Regions from separate parts of the Homo sapiens genome. Here all the other regions are reported to be linked to region 2. The links are microRNA targets in miRTarBase. Many come from high-throughput screens and were not tested one by one. Region 2 holds a microRNA gene; each other region holds the end of a gene's coding sequence.
The links. The annotated mature microRNA hsa-miR-619-5p reads GCUGGGAUUACAGGCAUGAGCC and lies in region 2 at 2,206-2,227, opposite strand. An mRNA with a match to its seed (bases 2 to 7 or 8) in the 3' UTR can be bound and repressed. Matches are read on the target gene's strand: a 7mer-m8 pairs with bases 2 to 8, a 7mer-A1 pairs with bases 2 to 7 and ends in A, and an 8mer does both.

Region 1: the mRNA of CCDC30 is a reported target of hsa-miR-619-5p. Seed matches in the 3' UTR shown: 7mer-m8 at 2,159-2,165, 7mer-m8 at 1,306-1,312 and 7mer-m8 at 217-223.
Region 3: miRTarBase lists IVD as a target of hsa-miR-619-5p. Seed matches in the 3' UTR shown: 7mer-m8 at 1,914-1,920, 7mer-m8 at 1,777-1,783, 7mer-m8 at 1,536-1,542, 7mer-m8 at 1,401-1,407, 7mer-m8 at 1,102-1,108, 7mer-m8 at 944-950 and 2 more.
Region 4: miRTarBase lists ELOC as a target of hsa-miR-619-5p. Seed matches in the 3' UTR shown: 7mer-m8 at 1,651-1,657 and 7mer-m8 at 1,787-1,793.
Region 5: the mRNA of ASB16 is a reported target of hsa-miR-619-5p. Seed matches in the 3' UTR shown: 7mer-A1 at 2,252-2,258.

Annotation. Positions count from the first base shown.
Region 1 is chr1:42,653,467-42,656,598 of GRCh38, reverse strand. CCDC30 (coiled-coil domain containing 30) reads right to left here. Exons shown (of 21, transcript NM_001395517.1): 21 at 1-2,781. The coding sequence ends at 2,571. All of the region lies in intron 1 of LOC124904162 (a long non-coding RNA gene), which reads left to right. Among named protein-coding and RNA genes, the nearest start is that of PPIH, 3.4 kb to the left of the region's middle.
Region 2 is chr12:108,834,757-108,837,888 of GRCh38, forward strand. It overlaps MIR619 (microRNA 619), which reads right to left and starts at 2,250; the gene lies at 2,152-2,250. All of the region lies in intron 2 of SSH1 (slingshot protein phosphatase 1), which reads right to left. RefSeq lists an enhancer at 3,106-3,132.
Region 3 is chr15:40,417,666-40,420,797 of GRCh38, reverse strand. IVD (isovaleryl-CoA dehydrogenase) reads right to left here. Exons shown (of 12, transcript NM_002225.5): 12 at 1-2,668. The coding sequence ends at 2,535. Among named protein-coding and RNA genes, the nearest start is that of IVD, 13 kb to the right of the region's middle.
Region 4 is chr8:73,943,911-73,947,041 of GRCh38, reverse strand. It overlaps ELOC (elongin C), which reads left to right. Exons shown (of 4, transcript NM_005648.4): 4 at 222-1,923. The coding sequence ends at 412. Among named protein-coding and RNA genes, the nearest start is that of ELOC, 27 kb to the left of the region's middle.
Region 5 is chr17:44,178,037-44,181,168 of GRCh38, reverse strand. ASB16 (ankyrin repeat and SOCS box containing 16) reads right to left here. Exons shown (of 5, transcript NM_080863.5): 5 at 2,085-2,964. The coding sequence ends at 2,779. The region is part of intron 2 of ASB16-AS1 (ASB16 antisense RNA 1); the gene reads left to right. Among named protein-coding and RNA genes, the nearest start is that of ASB16-AS1, 7.1 kb to the left of the region's middle.

The DNA of each region.
Region 1 (3,132 bases), not on the chromosome of region 2:
AGTACAGTGGAGTGGTCTCAGCTCACTGAAACTTCTACCTCTTGGGTTCAGGTGATTCTCGAGCCTCAGCCTCCCGCATAGCAGGGACTACAGGTGTGCACCACCATACCCGGCTAATTTTTGTATTTTTAGTAGAGACAGGGCTTTGCCATGTTGGCCTGGCTGGTCTTGAACTCCTGGCCTCAAGTGATCCACCTGCCTCGGCCTCCCAAAATGCTGGGATTATAGGCGTGAGCCACCGCACCTGGTCAGGCAGAACCCTTTTTTAAAGCAAAGGAAGTGATGTCCTAGAGCAATATTAACATTTATATCCTTTGACTCAGTCCAATCTTGCGAATTTGTTTTCTGGAGTAATTCAAAAGAAGAAAAGAACTACATGCACAAAGACCTTCAACACAGCATAATCTTAAATAGTAACAAAGTAAAACCAGGCCTGGCATAGAGGCTCATCCTATAATCCTATCACCTAGGAGGCTTAGGTGGGAGGATCACTTGAGCCCAGAAATTTGAGACCAGCTTGAACAATAGAGTGAGAGTGAGACCTCGTCTTTACAAAAAGTACAAAAATGAGCCAGGCATGGTAGCACATGCCTGTACTTGGGAGAGGCTGAGGAGAGAGGATCACTTAAGCATGGGAGGTTGAGGCTGCATGAGCAGTAATCAAACCACTGCACTCCAGCCTGGGTTACAAAGTGAGACCCTGTCTCAAAAAAAAAAAAAAAAAAAAAAAAGTAAAAACAGCTTAAATGCCAAACAAGAGAACGTTTAATTTATAGAACATCCACATCCTCAGAGATACTGAGCAGTACTGTTCCACCCTGATAGATGAAATGGATGTGAATGTTGCTGATCTTTTCTGAAGAAGCAGTCCCACTACACTAAAGATGAGCTGGAGACTGTTCACCTACTTTGTACTCCTGTTTGGAAATATTTAGGGGTAGTTTCTGTGTAATGGGGTTTATGTGAACTCTCTTCTCATACCCCCTCCCCCAGGAAAAGCTCTTGGTATTTTCCTATCCACTTTTATTTTATTTTATTTTATTTATTTTTTCGAGATGGAGTCTTGCTCTGTCACCCAGGCTGGAGTGCACTGGTGCAGTCTCGGCTCACTGCAACCTCTGCCTCTCGGGTTCAAGTGATTCTCCTGCCTCAGCCTCCCCAGTAGCTGGGACTACAGGCGCGCGCACTACCACACCTGGCTAATTGTTTTTGTATTTTTGTTAGAGACGGGGTTTCCCTAAGTTGGCCAAGCTGGTCTCGAACTCCTGACCTCAGGTGATCTGCCCACCTCGGCCTCCCAAAGTGCTGGGATCACAGGTGTAAGCCACCACGCCCAACCTCCTATCCACTTTTAAATAATGTATTGCTCTAAATCTTCTTCATTAAACATTTAAAACTTTTCCCATAAAAATAATTATAGAACATCAACATGATTGAATATCATATGGCGATTGAAAATGTTTCCATGGTATATACAGTAAATTAAAAATCAAACTGTGAAAATGAATATACAATATTATAATAACCACTTAGAATATATGTACTTGAATTAGGACCAAAAGGGAATAACTGTAAAATAAAATTAGTTGTGTTAAGACTGTGGTATTGGTGTAATCCCAGCACTTTGGGAGGCTGAGGTGGGTGGATCACCTGAGGTCAGGAGTTCAAGACCAGCATGGCCAACATGGTGAAACCTTGTCTCTACTAAAAATACAAAAATTAGCTGGGCATGGTGGCGGGCACCTATAATCCCAGCTACTTGGGAGGCTGAGGCAGGAGAATTGGTTGAACCTGGGAGGCAGAGGTTGCAGTGAGCGGAGATCATGCCACTGCACTTCAGCCTGGGTGACAGAGTAAGAGACTCCGTCTCAAAAAAAAAAAAAAAAGCTTATGGTATTATAGGAGGGTTTTTGTTTTTGTTTTTTGCTTTTTTTGAGACGGAGTCTCACTCTGTCACCCAGGCTGGAGTGCAGTGGTGCTATCGCAGGTTCACGCCATTCTCCTGCCTCAGCCTTCTGAGTAGCTGGGACTACAGGCACCCGCCACCACACTCGGTTAATTTTTTTGTATTTTTAGTAGAGACAGGGTTTCACCGTGTTAGCCAGGATGGTCTCGATCTCCTGACCTCGTGATCCACCCACCTCAGCCTCCCAAAGTGCTGGGATTATAGGCGTGAGCCACCACGCCCAGCATAGGAGGGTTTTTTTAAAAACAAAATTTGCTTTAATGTGACTGTATTGTTTTTACTGTTAAAAAATAAATCAGAAAAGATACCCATGATAATGGGAAAGAATGTTGAATTAACCCTACATGTGCTCTGCTGAAGAGAAACCTAAATAAATCATTGAACTAAAGTCAATATTTTGGTCAATACAAGGCATCTGAGGATATCAAACAAACTTGAGAAATCCATTTTTACAACTGCTTTAATGAATTTATCAGCAGTTTTGAAGACTCTTGGGTGATATCCATTTGGGATCTGTGGTAACTCTTCTCAATGTCATGGTCCACCTTTTGTCCAGGCTTTAAATTACCACTTTTGTTCAGTATAGCTTTAGGCACCAGTGATTTTATAGTTCTGACTTTTGGTCTTGTTCTTGTATACCATGTGTCTCCTTCAGAGAAGCCACATTTATGTATCCAGCCTCAGAATTCTGTGAACACACAAGATTCTCAGGAGACTTTTCAGGGGACTTTGAACTTGCCATTGCTTCTTTTGACTTGATCTCTTCAGTCTCTTGAAGACTTGCAAATGACTCTACCAAACCTTTTCCTGAAAAACTAAGAAATGCCATATGTGAGGACATCATGTACATAGAGTTTGTTGGTAGCAGTTCGGGGTTACAGGGATACAGGCATTGATAGAATTTCAATTTTTTGCAACTGTTACACAAAGCCAAATAAAATTTACCTTAAACCTATGTTCATATTTTATTTCCTACCTTAAGTCAGGATTCTGTGGGGTTTAGAGTTGAAGGAGTGGCAAGGGGAGGAATTGGAAGAAGATTCAAATAATTCATGTAGAGAAAATGACCCCAGAAAGCTATGCCTTCTCAAGCCAGCAATCCAGGACTAGTTAGGCAGCCATGACTCTCAGGCATGGCTGACAGTCCATCTCAGATAGACTTGACT
Region 2 (3,132 bases):
GTATATTTTAACTTCACAATGGGATGTGAGGGCCAGGATGCACATGCTTTTTAAATCTCCCTCTGTGCTTGACATACAGTAGATTGAAAGTAAGTGCTGGTAGATACACTGGCCAAGCTGTGCTCTTCTCTGAAGTCAGTATTCCAGGAGTAACTCACCCTGGTCATCTCTGTGCCCTGGGCACACTGGGCACTCCCCACACACAGGTTGAACCTGGCAAATAAGACTCACAGCATCATGCCACGTGCGAGTTAAAGCCACCTGGAGGTCAGGTCAGGTCTTCCTGACAACTGAGTGCTTCAAATAACACAACAGCAGCTAAGTTCCCCACATCACCTTGAGTGTCTGGAGAGCTAGGCCTATGACTTCTCTGTCTCAGGATCCCTCTCAGTGCCCAGAAAACAGTGGACATCAATAAATGTAACACCAATAACATCTTCGTTGAGCGCTATGCTAAGCACATCAGGTATGTTAACTCATTTATTCCCCAGTGTCCATCTCTCAGTGTTTTATACATACGGGAACTGAGGCTCAATTAGCCGAGCGTGGTGTCGTGCTCCTGTAATCCCAGCTATTGGGAGGCACAAGAATCACTCGAACCCAGGAGATGGAGGTTGCAGTGAGCCGAGATTGTGCCACAGCACTGCAACAGAGTAAGACTCCGTCTTAAAAAAACAAAAAAACAGAAAACAAAACAAACAAACACTGAGGCTCAGGGAGGTTAAGTCACCTGCCCAAGTTCATGAGACCAAGGAGCCGGGAAGCAGGAAGGGGAAGGCAGGAGTGTAACTCTGAAACCTCTGCTCTTAGGCACTGGCTTTCAGCTGAACTGATACCTCTGGAAAACAGTCTCAAAAAAGTCCACTTCTCCTCCCAACAATTCAGACCTAAAAACCATTTGGCGGGGAAGGGCAGGGCAAGCTTCTGAGTTGGGGAGGGGGTGTGGGATCCCAAGCTGAGGTGTCTGTTGGCAAGCAGGGTGCAAAGGGCATCTGTGCAGGGAGGGGGCTGCAAGGGAGACAGAGACTGCTCACAGGCAAGGAATGAAATATTAAACATTAATGTTAATATTAATATTTATAATTAATATATTTATGATATATAGCATATATACATATTATATTAATTAATTATAACTATATTAATATAATTAATTATAACTATATTAATATAATCAATTATAACTATATTAATATAATCGATTATAACTATATTAATATAATCGATTATAACTATATTAATATAATCGATTATAACTATATTAATATAATCGATTATATTAATATTAATATAATCAATATTAACAAATATATACTATATAATATAAATAATACCTAAGTTTATATAATATGCATAATGTTAATATTTATTAATATTTCAGGGACAATGGGAGTCATGAATATGGAGAGACAAAACTAGAATGAACCCCAAGGTGCTGCATCAGAATTGAAGGTACCAGTCTGAACTCATAGTTTTCAACCTATTGAAATAAATATAGATGCACGTGTGTGTGTATGCACGTACATACAAATGTTCCCTAATTCTGCCCATTGAGAGGCCTGTGGTTAGCAACACCCCAACAGCAATAAGCAGACCTAGCTTGGCTCCTAAATTTCATTTTCCACTAAAAGGAACCAGAGCCCCTTGGATAAAGGACTGATTCCACAGGTGGGTAGGGAGCATCTGTTGCCAGAAAGCAAGAAAGCACTTAAAGAATGATGTGGACATGTCAAAGGGACACAGAAGCCAGCCTGGATGAGATCCCACTGGCCCTAACTGTCCACAAGGACAATTTGAGCAAGGATGTCAACAATTTAAGAGCAGATTATAAACCACTGAATAAAACAGAAAAATACAAAGAATTGAAACGGACATTGATGGCAGACAGGATATTAACATAATTTTAAAGTATCTCTCCAAGGAATGCTTCTGAATGATGAAGGGGAAAAGAATAACTGTACAGTGGAAAAGCCTGGTAAAACCCACCTTAGTGACCAAAGTGAATGTCACCATAGTGGGACAAAAGGAAATCAAGTGCCACCTTATGGGATTCAACGAGGACGCAGCATCCCTTGGGTGATGTTCCAGCCAAATACACGTGCCCGGTGGAATCACACAAGAACATCAGACACACTCACACTGAGGGACACTCTGCAAACTGACAGTACTGGGCACAAACATGTCCAGGTCATGGTCGACCGCAGTGGCTCATGCCTGTAATCCCAGCATTTTGGGAGGCTGAGGTGGGCGGATCACTTGAGGTCAGGGGTTCGAGACCAGCCTGGCCAACATGGCAACACCCTATTCTCTACTAAAAATACAAAAATTAGCCGAGCGTGGTGGAGCATGCCCGTAATCCCAGCTACTTGGGGCGCTAAGGCACAAGAATCGCTTGAACCCGGGAGGTGGAGGTTGCAGCGAGCTGAGATATCACCGCTGCACTCCAGCTTGGGCGACAGAGTGAGTTTCCAACTCAAAAAATAAAAAAATAAAATAAAATCCAGGCCACAAGAGTCAAAGAAAGACTGAGGAAGGTTCCAGACTGCAGGAGAGCCAAGAGACAGGATAACTAGATGCAATGGGCAGTCCTGAATTGGATCTTTTGTTATGAAGGACAACGCTGGGACATATGGTGACTCTTGAATGGGGTTAGAGGACTAGACGGTGGGAATGCATCAGAGTCAGTGTCCCGCGTGGATGGCTGTGTTGCGGTTCTGTGGGAGAATGCCCTGGTCTGTATTCCAAGGGTAATGGAGTAGCAGGTTGACAAATTACTTTCAAATGGTTCAAAAAAGAAAGTTCTTTTCACTGTACTTGCAATTCTTATGTAAGCTGGAAATTATCTCAAAATTAACGAGAATTTTTTATCGACGTAGTATTTTACATATTTATGGAAAACATGTAAGTATTTGTTACATGCATAAACTGTGTAATGACCAAGTCAGAGTATCTGGGGTATCCATGACCTTGAGTATTAATCATTTGTATGTGTTGGGAGCATTACAAGTTTTCGAGTTACCAATTTTTTTTTTTTTCCTTTGAGACAGGGTCTTACTCTGTCGCCCAGGCTGGAGTGCAGTGGGACGACCACGGCTCACGCAGCACAGCCTCCACCTCCCAGGCTCAAGCGAT
Region 3 (3,132 bases), not on the chromosome of region 2:
CACCCCCATTTTTGCCATGAGCAGATCTGGATTCTAGTTCGTTTTGACCTTGAGAAAGTCAAATTGTGTTGATCTTTTTAAAAACAAAGGGGCGGTTTTCAGAAATCTATAAGCTTCCTTCTGGCTGTAAGAACTTAGCACTCTGGGCTCCCTGCTTCCTTTAAAACTCACTGGGAGATCTGGGAAAGGGAGGCTGAGACCTCTCTCCTAAGGGCTGATTTTACCTTCCTGTCCCTCATGAAAGAACGGGCTGGAGGACAGGAATAGGACCTGGGCCAGCCACTCTCCAAGGACACAAGCTGGATCCAGACAGGAAGCAGCGGCAAGTAGATTGCTTCTCCCCAGATAGGTTTGTTTCACAATATATTTAATACAAAATGGCAGCAGCCACTGTGCAGTTATAACAAAATTAGCCATAGGGTATCTGGAGAAATGTACACAGGCAGCCTCAGCTGGAGTCATGCGAGCCAACTCCGGCCTGCTCGGGTAGGGCCTGTGCCTGCTGCCCAGTCAGCTGTGGGTGGTCACACGGCCAGGACTGGATGGTGCCCGTGGCAGGGCGGTGCACAAGGGCTCAGAGGTGCTGTACAGGAGGAGCCAGTCTTCCAACAGTACACAAAAGCACGCTGTCCTCTGCTCTGCCCCCCCTGCGGACTCAGCAGCATGTGTGTTCATTTATTTTATTATTATTTTTTGAGACAGAGTCTCACTCTGTTGCCCAGGCTGGAGTGCAATGGCGCGATCTCAGCTCCTGCAACCTCTGCCTCCTGCGTTCAAGCGATTCTCCTGCCTCAGTCTTCTGTGTAACTGGGATTACAGGCGCGTGCCACCAGGCCTGGCTAATTTTTGTATTTTTAGTAGAGACGAGGTTTCACCATGTTGGTCGTCAGGCTGGTCTCGAACTCCTGACCTTGTGATCTGCCCGCCTCGGCCTCCCAAAGTGCTGGGATTACAGACGTTGAGCCACCATGCCTGGCCTATTATTTTTTGAGACAGAGTCTCGCTCTGTCGTCCAAGCTGGAGTGCAGTGGTGTGATCTTGGCTCACTGCAAACTCTGCCTCCCGGGTTCAAGCAATTCTCTGCCTCAGCCTCCTGAGTAGCTGGGATTACAGGAGCCTGCCACCACACCTGGCTAATTTTTGTATTTTTAGTAGAGACGAGGTTTTACCATCTTGGCCAGGCTGGTCTTGAACTCCTGACCTCGTGATCCACCTGCCTCGGCCTCCCAAAGTGTTGGGATTACAGGCATGAGTCACTGTGCCCAGCCTATTTTTCTTTCCTTTTTTGAGACAGAGTCTCACTCTATGGCCCAGGCTGGACTGCAGCGGTGTCATATTGGCTCATTGCAACCTCCACCTCCCGGGTTCAAGTGATTCTCCTGCCTCAGCCTCCTGAGTAGCTGGGATTACAGACGTGCACCACCACCCCTGGCTAATTTTTGTATTTTTAGTAGAGATGGGGTTTCACCACGTTGGACAGGCTGGTCTTGAACTCCTGACTGCAAGTGATCCACCTGCCTTGGCCTCCCAAAGTGCTGGGATTACAGGCACACACCACCTTGCCTGGCCAAGCAAGCATATGTGTTCATAAGCTGCTAGGAGCTGATACCTCTAGAAACTGGAAGAAACAAGGGCCAGGGTTTTTTTGTTTTGTTTTGTTTTTTGAAGAGTTTTGCTCTTGTCGCCCAGGCTGGAGTGCAATGGCACAAGCTCGGCTCACTGCAACGTCCGCCTCCTGGGTTCAAGTAATTCTCCTGCCTCAGCCTCCTGAAGTAGCTGGGATTACAGGTGCCCACCACCATGCCCAACTAATTTTTTTCTATTTTTAGTTGAGGCGAGGTTTCCACATGTTGGCCAGGCTGGTCTTGAACTCCTGACCTCAGGTGATCCACCCATCTCAGCCTCCTGAAGTGCTGGGATTACAAGCATGAGCCACCACGCCTGGCTAGGCTAGGTTTATTATTTTTTTCCCCCAGAAAAGAGACTGAAAGTTGAATTTGCCTTATCCAAAATGCTTGGAACCACAAGTGTTTCAGATTTCAGGATTAGGGATACTTAACCTGTACCAAGTTCCAATTCATGGAGAGGGGCCATGATTCTGCTGTGCTTGAGCAGAGAGATCTCCTTGCCAGAGCCTCACCCAAGAGAAAGAGGTGGGTACCTGCATGCCCCCAGGTGCCTACCCTGGGAGGTGGGCACCTGCATGCCCCCAGGTGCCTACCCTGGGAGGTGGGCTCAGAAGTTAGAGAGCAAGGGCACAGAGTCACCAAAACCTGTCCCAACAATCCCCAGACAATATGCTTCCTGCTGAGTCCATTTTAAATCACACAACACTAGCCGTGGCACAGGCCCGGCTGCGAGGCCCATGATGCTTGGGAGCTGTTGTGGAGAACTCAACCTCATCCAGAGGCCAGAGGGCTGACAAGAGCAGCTGGGCAGGAGGGCCTGCTGTGGGCAGGGTGGGAAAGCCGCCACATCTCTACTTCCCAAGAAAGGCCACTAGGTGCAGGAAAAGGGGGCGAAGGGTCTCAGGACTAGTGAAAGTCTGCATTGAAGGCTCTGCCGATGACCAGCCGCCTCACCTCGCTGGTCCCAGCCCCTATCTCATACAGCTTGGCATCTCGAAGAAAGCGGCCCATGGGAAAGTCATTGATGTAGCCATTGCCACCTGCAACCAGGGTTTGGGCAGAGAAGAAAGGAAGTGATTGACAAAACAAAGAAAGCAAACAGAATGCCAAGTATATAGAAACAGGCCACAGGAGGAGAGGGTGATTAAAGAAAAGCAGCAAAAGGTAGCAAGAGGGAGGGGTGTGGGGAATACACTAGTCCTTCCTTATCCTTGGAGGATACATTCCAAGACCCCAGTGGATGCCTGAAACCGTAGATAGTACCGAACCCCATATATATGTTGTTTTTTTCCCTATACATACATACTTATGAGAAAGTTTAATTTATGAGCTAGGCATAGTAACAGATCAACAATAATAACAAATACTAAAATAGAACTATTATGACATGCCAGCATCACTACTCTTGCAATCTGGGGCCACTGAGCAAAATAAGAGTTACTTGAACACAGGCACTCTGATATCAGGACAGCTGATTGGATACCCTAGGTGACTACTAACGGGC
Region 4 (3,131 bases), not on the chromosome of region 2:
ACTTCAGCCTGGGTGACAGAGCGCGACTCTGTCTCAAACAAACAAACAAAAAGACACCAATCATATTGGATTGCCACCCTAATGACCTCTTTTAATTACCTCTTTAAAGAACTTATCTCTAAATACAGCCACATTCTGTGGTACAAGGGGTTAAGACTTCAACATATGAATTTGGAGGACACAATTCAGCCAATAACATACATAATTCTTTTGTTTTACAGGTCAGTTTGCTGAGAACGAAACCAATGAGGTCAATTTTAGAGAGATACCTTCACATGTGCTATCGAAAGTATGCATGTATTTTACGTACAAGGTTCGCTACACTAACAGCTCCACCGAGATTCCTGAATTCCCAATTGCACCTGAAATTGCACTGGAACTGCTGATGGCTGCGAACTTCTTAGATTGTTAAATAAAATAAATTATAATAAACTGTTAACTCTTTTCAGTATTTAATACCTGTAGTTCAGTTAGTAACTTTTTCATATATAGCATGTTGCCTGTATGCAGTTGAACTATATAAAGTTCATTGCAAAGCAGATTATCTTGTTTTTTTGCATAGCAATCAAAGTTGAAATTTGTTTGCTACATCAACAAATTAAGGACATTTTCACAAACTGAGAAATAAACAAATATGCCAATTCGTAGGTGGTTTTGCCTTATCCTTTGAATGTGACTTAAAATCAGCAATGATGATATAGTAAATACTGAAATTTAGGTGTAAATCAATACGTTCTACAGGGAAATAATGAGGCTAAGTATTTTTATGTTTTTAGTGGTTTTTTAGAAACCTAATCTTATAGCCGCCATTAGCATTACTAGAGTTATGCAAATAATTGCATTATAAACATGTTTATAACTTAGCCAAAACATTGATTTTTATAACTCTCCAAGTATGAGTTGAAATTTCTTATGTCTTTTGATAAACTGCAGTATTCTTTAAGTGTACTTTGTCCTTTTGTTTATTGCTACAATTTAAGAACTTTATTTAAAAACAATTTTGGAAGGTTACTAGGTACAGCTTTTGCAGAAGAAACTGAACTGTAGCCAGATGGTCAGCAAGTAAACTACATGACTTAGAGTTCTTGTGCATTATACATTTTGGGTAATTCAAAGTACTGTATTTGCATTGACTATAAAGCGTCGTTTGCAATATTTATTCTTCCTTCATAGTCCCTTGTTGTGATTATACTTCCAGTTGTTTAAATGTATTTTAAAAGACTCACTATTAACTTTATTCAGATCTTAAAAGCTACACCTTTTTGAACTATTCCAGTCTTTCTCCATCCAATTAGAATGTTATGGAATAACATGTGAAGAGATACAGTGAAAATCATATTATAATGCATTGAAGATATCCTACATGAATTATCTTCTATTAAAATATGTCCCAATAAATATACCCATAATCAGTGGGTCTTCTACTGAAATCAAGCTCATTCAGCTTTTCTATTAAGCAGCCAAAAAATTTTTTGAAAAAATATGACAGCATCATTCCTTATGCATGGGGAAAGAAGCACTGGAGATGGGTTTAGTATTGTCTTTATCTCAGAGGTGGAACAAAGTTGTCATTATAGGGTCTATAAACTTAAGTCTCCAGCTTATTTGAGACTGGCTTAATATGGCTGAGCCCGGTGGCTCATGCCTGTAATCCCAGCACTTTCAGAGGACGAGGCGGGTAGATCACTTGAGGCCAGGAGTTTGAGACCAGCCTGGCCACCATGGCAAAACCCCATCTCTACCAAAAATGCAAAAATTAGCTAGGCCATGGTGGCACACGCCTGTAATCCCAGCTACTTGTGAGGCTGAGGCATGAGAATCGCTTGAACCTGGGAGGTGGAGGTGGCAGTGAGCCGAGATCGCACCACTGCACTCCAGCCTGGGTGACAGAGCGAGACTGTCTCAAAAAAAAAAAAAAAAAAAAAAAAGACTGGCCTAATATGGACCAGCTTTTCTGGAAACTGCAAAAACCATACACAAAAGTAATTTTTCCTCTTATACCTAAACATTATACATTCCAGCTTATTGAAAGAAGTTAAATATAAATTATATATTTTTAGTAACTTTTTTTTAAGCTGCTCCTTGCAGAGCAGGGCTAACTTCCAGGCAGCGCGCCCAGAGCCGCCTTAGTAACTTCTTAAGCTATACTGGTACATATTTTAATATAGAAGATTATTTATCAAGTACAAGAATTATATTCTGCCATGTGGTGACAAATGATGCCAAGTATAAACCTAAATAGTGATTTCAAAAGTCAAGGTCAGACATGGTGGCTCATGCCTATAATCCCAGCACTTTGGGAGGCTGAGGCGGGTGGATCACTTGAGGTTAGGAGTTCCAGAGCAGCCTGGCCAACGTGGTGAAACCTCATCTCTACTAAAAATAGAAAAATTAGCCGCCTGTGGTGGCACGCATCTGTGATCCCAGCTACTCGGGAGGCTGAGGCAGGAGAATTGCTTGAACCTGGGAGGCAGAGGTTGCAGTGAGCCAAGATCGTGCCACTGCACTCCAGCGTGGGCAACAAGAACAAAACTCAGTCTCAAACAAAGAAAAATAGAAATAAAGTTTAACTTTGACCAGTTTTCATAGGTTATTTTATGTATTGGAATCAGAAGTAACCTTAAGTTTAAGACATTAAAACTGAATCAAAGACTAAGCAAGCCTGTTTATCTTGAAGCACATGGTACTTGCATGTTAATAAAGGCTGAGGTATGATGAACACTTGGTGTTTGATTTTTTTTAGCCTTAATTTTCTTTTGCCTTAATTTTCTGTTTTTTTTTCTGTATTTTAGCCATTTTTTTTTTAGCCTTAATTTTCTGAGGATTCGTTAAACTTTGCCTCAGGACATTTCTGCCATGTGTTTGAATATCAGAAATTTTTACTTGGTTAAATTTAAGATATAACACTGAGATCTTAACAGTTTTCTGACACTTGGTAATTTACTTTTCAAATTATGTGCAGATTCTATATTATTTTTTCTGCATAAAAAACATTACCACAAAATTCTTTGTATTATTCAGTTACTTCATTTTTACACTAGGTTATGCTTTTTAAATTGCTTATCTTTCATGCAGTTATTATCAAGATAATCTTCCTTTTTTAATTTAATTTTTTTCATTTTGTTTTTTAG
Region 5 (3,132 bases), not on the chromosome of region 2:
CGGGGGGCTGACCCCCCACCTCCCTCCCGGACAGGGCGGCTGGCCGGGCGGGGGGCTGACCCCCCCACCTCCCTCCCGGACAGGGCGGCTGGCCGGGCGGGGGGCTGACCCCCCACCTCCCTCCCGGACAGGGCGGCTGGCCGGGCAGAGGGGCTCCTCACTTCCCAGTAGGGGCGGCTGGGCAGAGGCGCCCCTCACCTCCCAGACGGGGCGGCTGGCCGGGCGGAGGGCTGACCCCCCACACCTCCCTCCCGGACGGGGCGGCTGGCCAGGCGGGGGGCTGACCCCCCTACCTCCCTCCCGGACGGGGCGGCTGGCCGGGTGGGGGGGCTGACCCCCCCATCTCCCTCGCGGACGGGGTGGCTGGCCGGGCTGAGGGGCTCCTCACTTCCCAGTAGGGGCGGCCGGGCAGAGGCGCCCCTCACCTCCCGGACGGGGCGGCTGGCCGGGCGGGGGGCTGACCCCCCCACCTCCCTCCCGGACGGCACGGCTGGCCAGGCGGGGGGCTGACCCCCCCACCTCCCTCCCGGATGGCACGGCTGGCCGGGCGGGGGGGCTGACCCCCCACCTCCCTCCCGGATGGGGCGGCTGGCCGGGCGGGGGGCTGACCCCCCCCCCACCTCCCTCCCGGATGGGGTGGCTGCCCGGCGGAGACGCTCCTCACTTCCCAGATGGGGTGGCTGCCGGGCGGAGAGGCTCCTCACTTCTCAGACGGGGTGGTTGCCAGGCAGAGGGTCTCCTCACTTCTCAGACGGGGCGGCCGTGCAGAGACGCTCCTCACCTCCCAGACGGGGTCTCGGCCGGGCAGAGGCGCTCCTCACATCCCAGATGGGGCGGCGGGGCAGAGGCGCTCCCCACATCTCAGACGATGGGCGGCCGGGCAGAGACGCTCCTCACTTCCTAGATGTGATGGCGGCTGGGAAGAGGCGCTCCTCACTTCCTAGATGGGATGGCGGCCGGGCGGAGACGCTCCTCACTTTCCAGACTGGGCAGCCAGGCAGAGGGGCTCCTCACATCCCAGACGATGGGCGGCCAGGCAGAGACGCTCCTCACTTCCCAGACGGGGTGGCAGCCGGGCAGAGGCTGCAATCTCGGCACTTTGGGAGGCCAAGGCAGGCGGCTGCTCCTTGCCCTCGGGCCCCGCGGGGCCCGTCCGCTCCTCCAGCCGCTGCCTCCCGGGCGGCGCTCGCCGGCGCGGCGGCAAAGACTGAGACAGCTCCGCTGCCCGCTGAACTCCATCCTCCCGGCGGTCGGGCGGCGGCGGCTGCGGTCGGTCGCGGCAGCGGCTCCGCTTCATATCTGCAGCTGGGGCCCGCGGGCGTCAGCGCCGCGACTGTCCCAGTCCGCACTGCCCCGGGCCGCAGCGCAGCCGCGCCAACCACCACCCGCGGCCACCATGGCCAGACGGGCTCCCTAAGCCACCGACCCCAGCCCGCGGTGCCTTCGAGCCTTCTGGGGCCTCCGGCGCCGCGACCTCCTCTGCGCTCCTCACGGAAGACTTTTTTTTTTTTTTTTTTTTAAGACGGAGTCCCGCTCTGTTGCCCAGGCTGGAGTACAGCGGTGCGCGATCTTGGCTCATTGCAACCTCCACCTCCCAGGTTCAAGTGATTCTCCTGCTTCAACCTCCTGAGTAGCTGAGATTACAGGCATCCGCCACTATGCCCGGCTAATTTTTGTATTTTTAGTAGAGACAGGGTTTCACCATGTTGGCCAGGCTGGTCTAGAACTCCTGACCTCGTGATCCGCCCACCTCGGCCTCCCAAAGTGCTGGGATTACAGGCATGAACCACTGCGCCTGGCCTAATTTTTTGTATTTTTAGTAGAGACAGGGTTTTACCATGTTGGTCAGGTTGGTCTCAAACTCCTGACCTCAGGTGATCCTCCCGCCTCAGTCTCCCAAAGTGCTGGGATTACAGGTGTAAGCCACTGCACTCAGCTTGTTTTAAAGAGTTTTGATTTTAGTGTGAGAGGAGCCACTGGAGGGCATGATCAGAGTTTGACTCCCAAAGACCATTCCAGCACCAATTCAGGGCATGGGTCTCAAGATCTCCCTTGGAGTGACAAAGGCAGGGCAGGCAAGCCAGTGCACGCAGAGACAGAGTTTGTCCCTCTTTAGGAGGCTGAACAGGTATAAGGGTGGCAGGAGAGGGAGGTGGTGGGCCACTAGAATCACTGGTTCTTGGCATGGGACCTGGATGGATAGAGGGGCCATCCACTTAAACACAGGAGGAGAAGGGAGGTGAAGGCCGAGTCTGGGAACAGGCCGAGTCTGCAGCCCTTCCTGCTGGAGAGAGGGTCTGAAGCTCAGGTCCGGCTAGAGGTCAGCAGGTGTCTCAAGAAGCCCATGGAGGAGTGAGGTGGACCAGGACAGCACGTGGAGTACAGAAAAGAGGGGCAGGCAACCAGGCGCAGTGGCTCATGCCTGTAATCCCAACACTTTGGGAGGCCAAGGCGGGTGGATCACCTGAGGTCAGTGTGAGACCAGCCTGGCCAACATGGTGAGACCCTGTCTCTACTAAAAATACAAAATCAGCCAGGTGTGGTGACTCATGCCTGTAGTCCCAGCTACTCGGAAGTTTGGGGCACAAGAATCGCTTGAACCTAGGTGGTAGAAGTTGCAGTGAGCCGAGATAGCGCCACTGCACTCCAGCCTGGGCAACAGAGTGAGACTAGGTCTCAAAAAGAAAAGAAAAGAGGGCCAGGAACTGGTCCTCCGCAGTTGGAGGCGGGGACAGGTGGGAGGGGCAGAACACACCATGGGACAGCCTGACATGGGGTTCACTGGATGCACCCCTCCACACGCAGCAGCAGGTAGTCCCTGAGGAGCGGGGGCAGTGGCAGCCGGGTGGCACCCTGCCGGCAGCGGCTTCCCAACCGAGCGCGCACAGCTAGTCGGGCCAGGTGCTGCAGCTGCCTTGGCTGGTTCACCATGCACAGGGCCGAGCTGTAGAAGGCTTCGTGCTCCTAGGCCAGGAGTGAAAGAAGGTCAGATGACCCTTGCCCTACCATCTGGGGGCAACCCAGCGGTGGGGGTCCTGGGATTTTGCAGCATGCACCCACCTGGGTGTTTCATGTGTCTCAAAGGACTCAGATTCAGAACCATAGAGGCCCTGCAGTGATAATGCGGGCTGG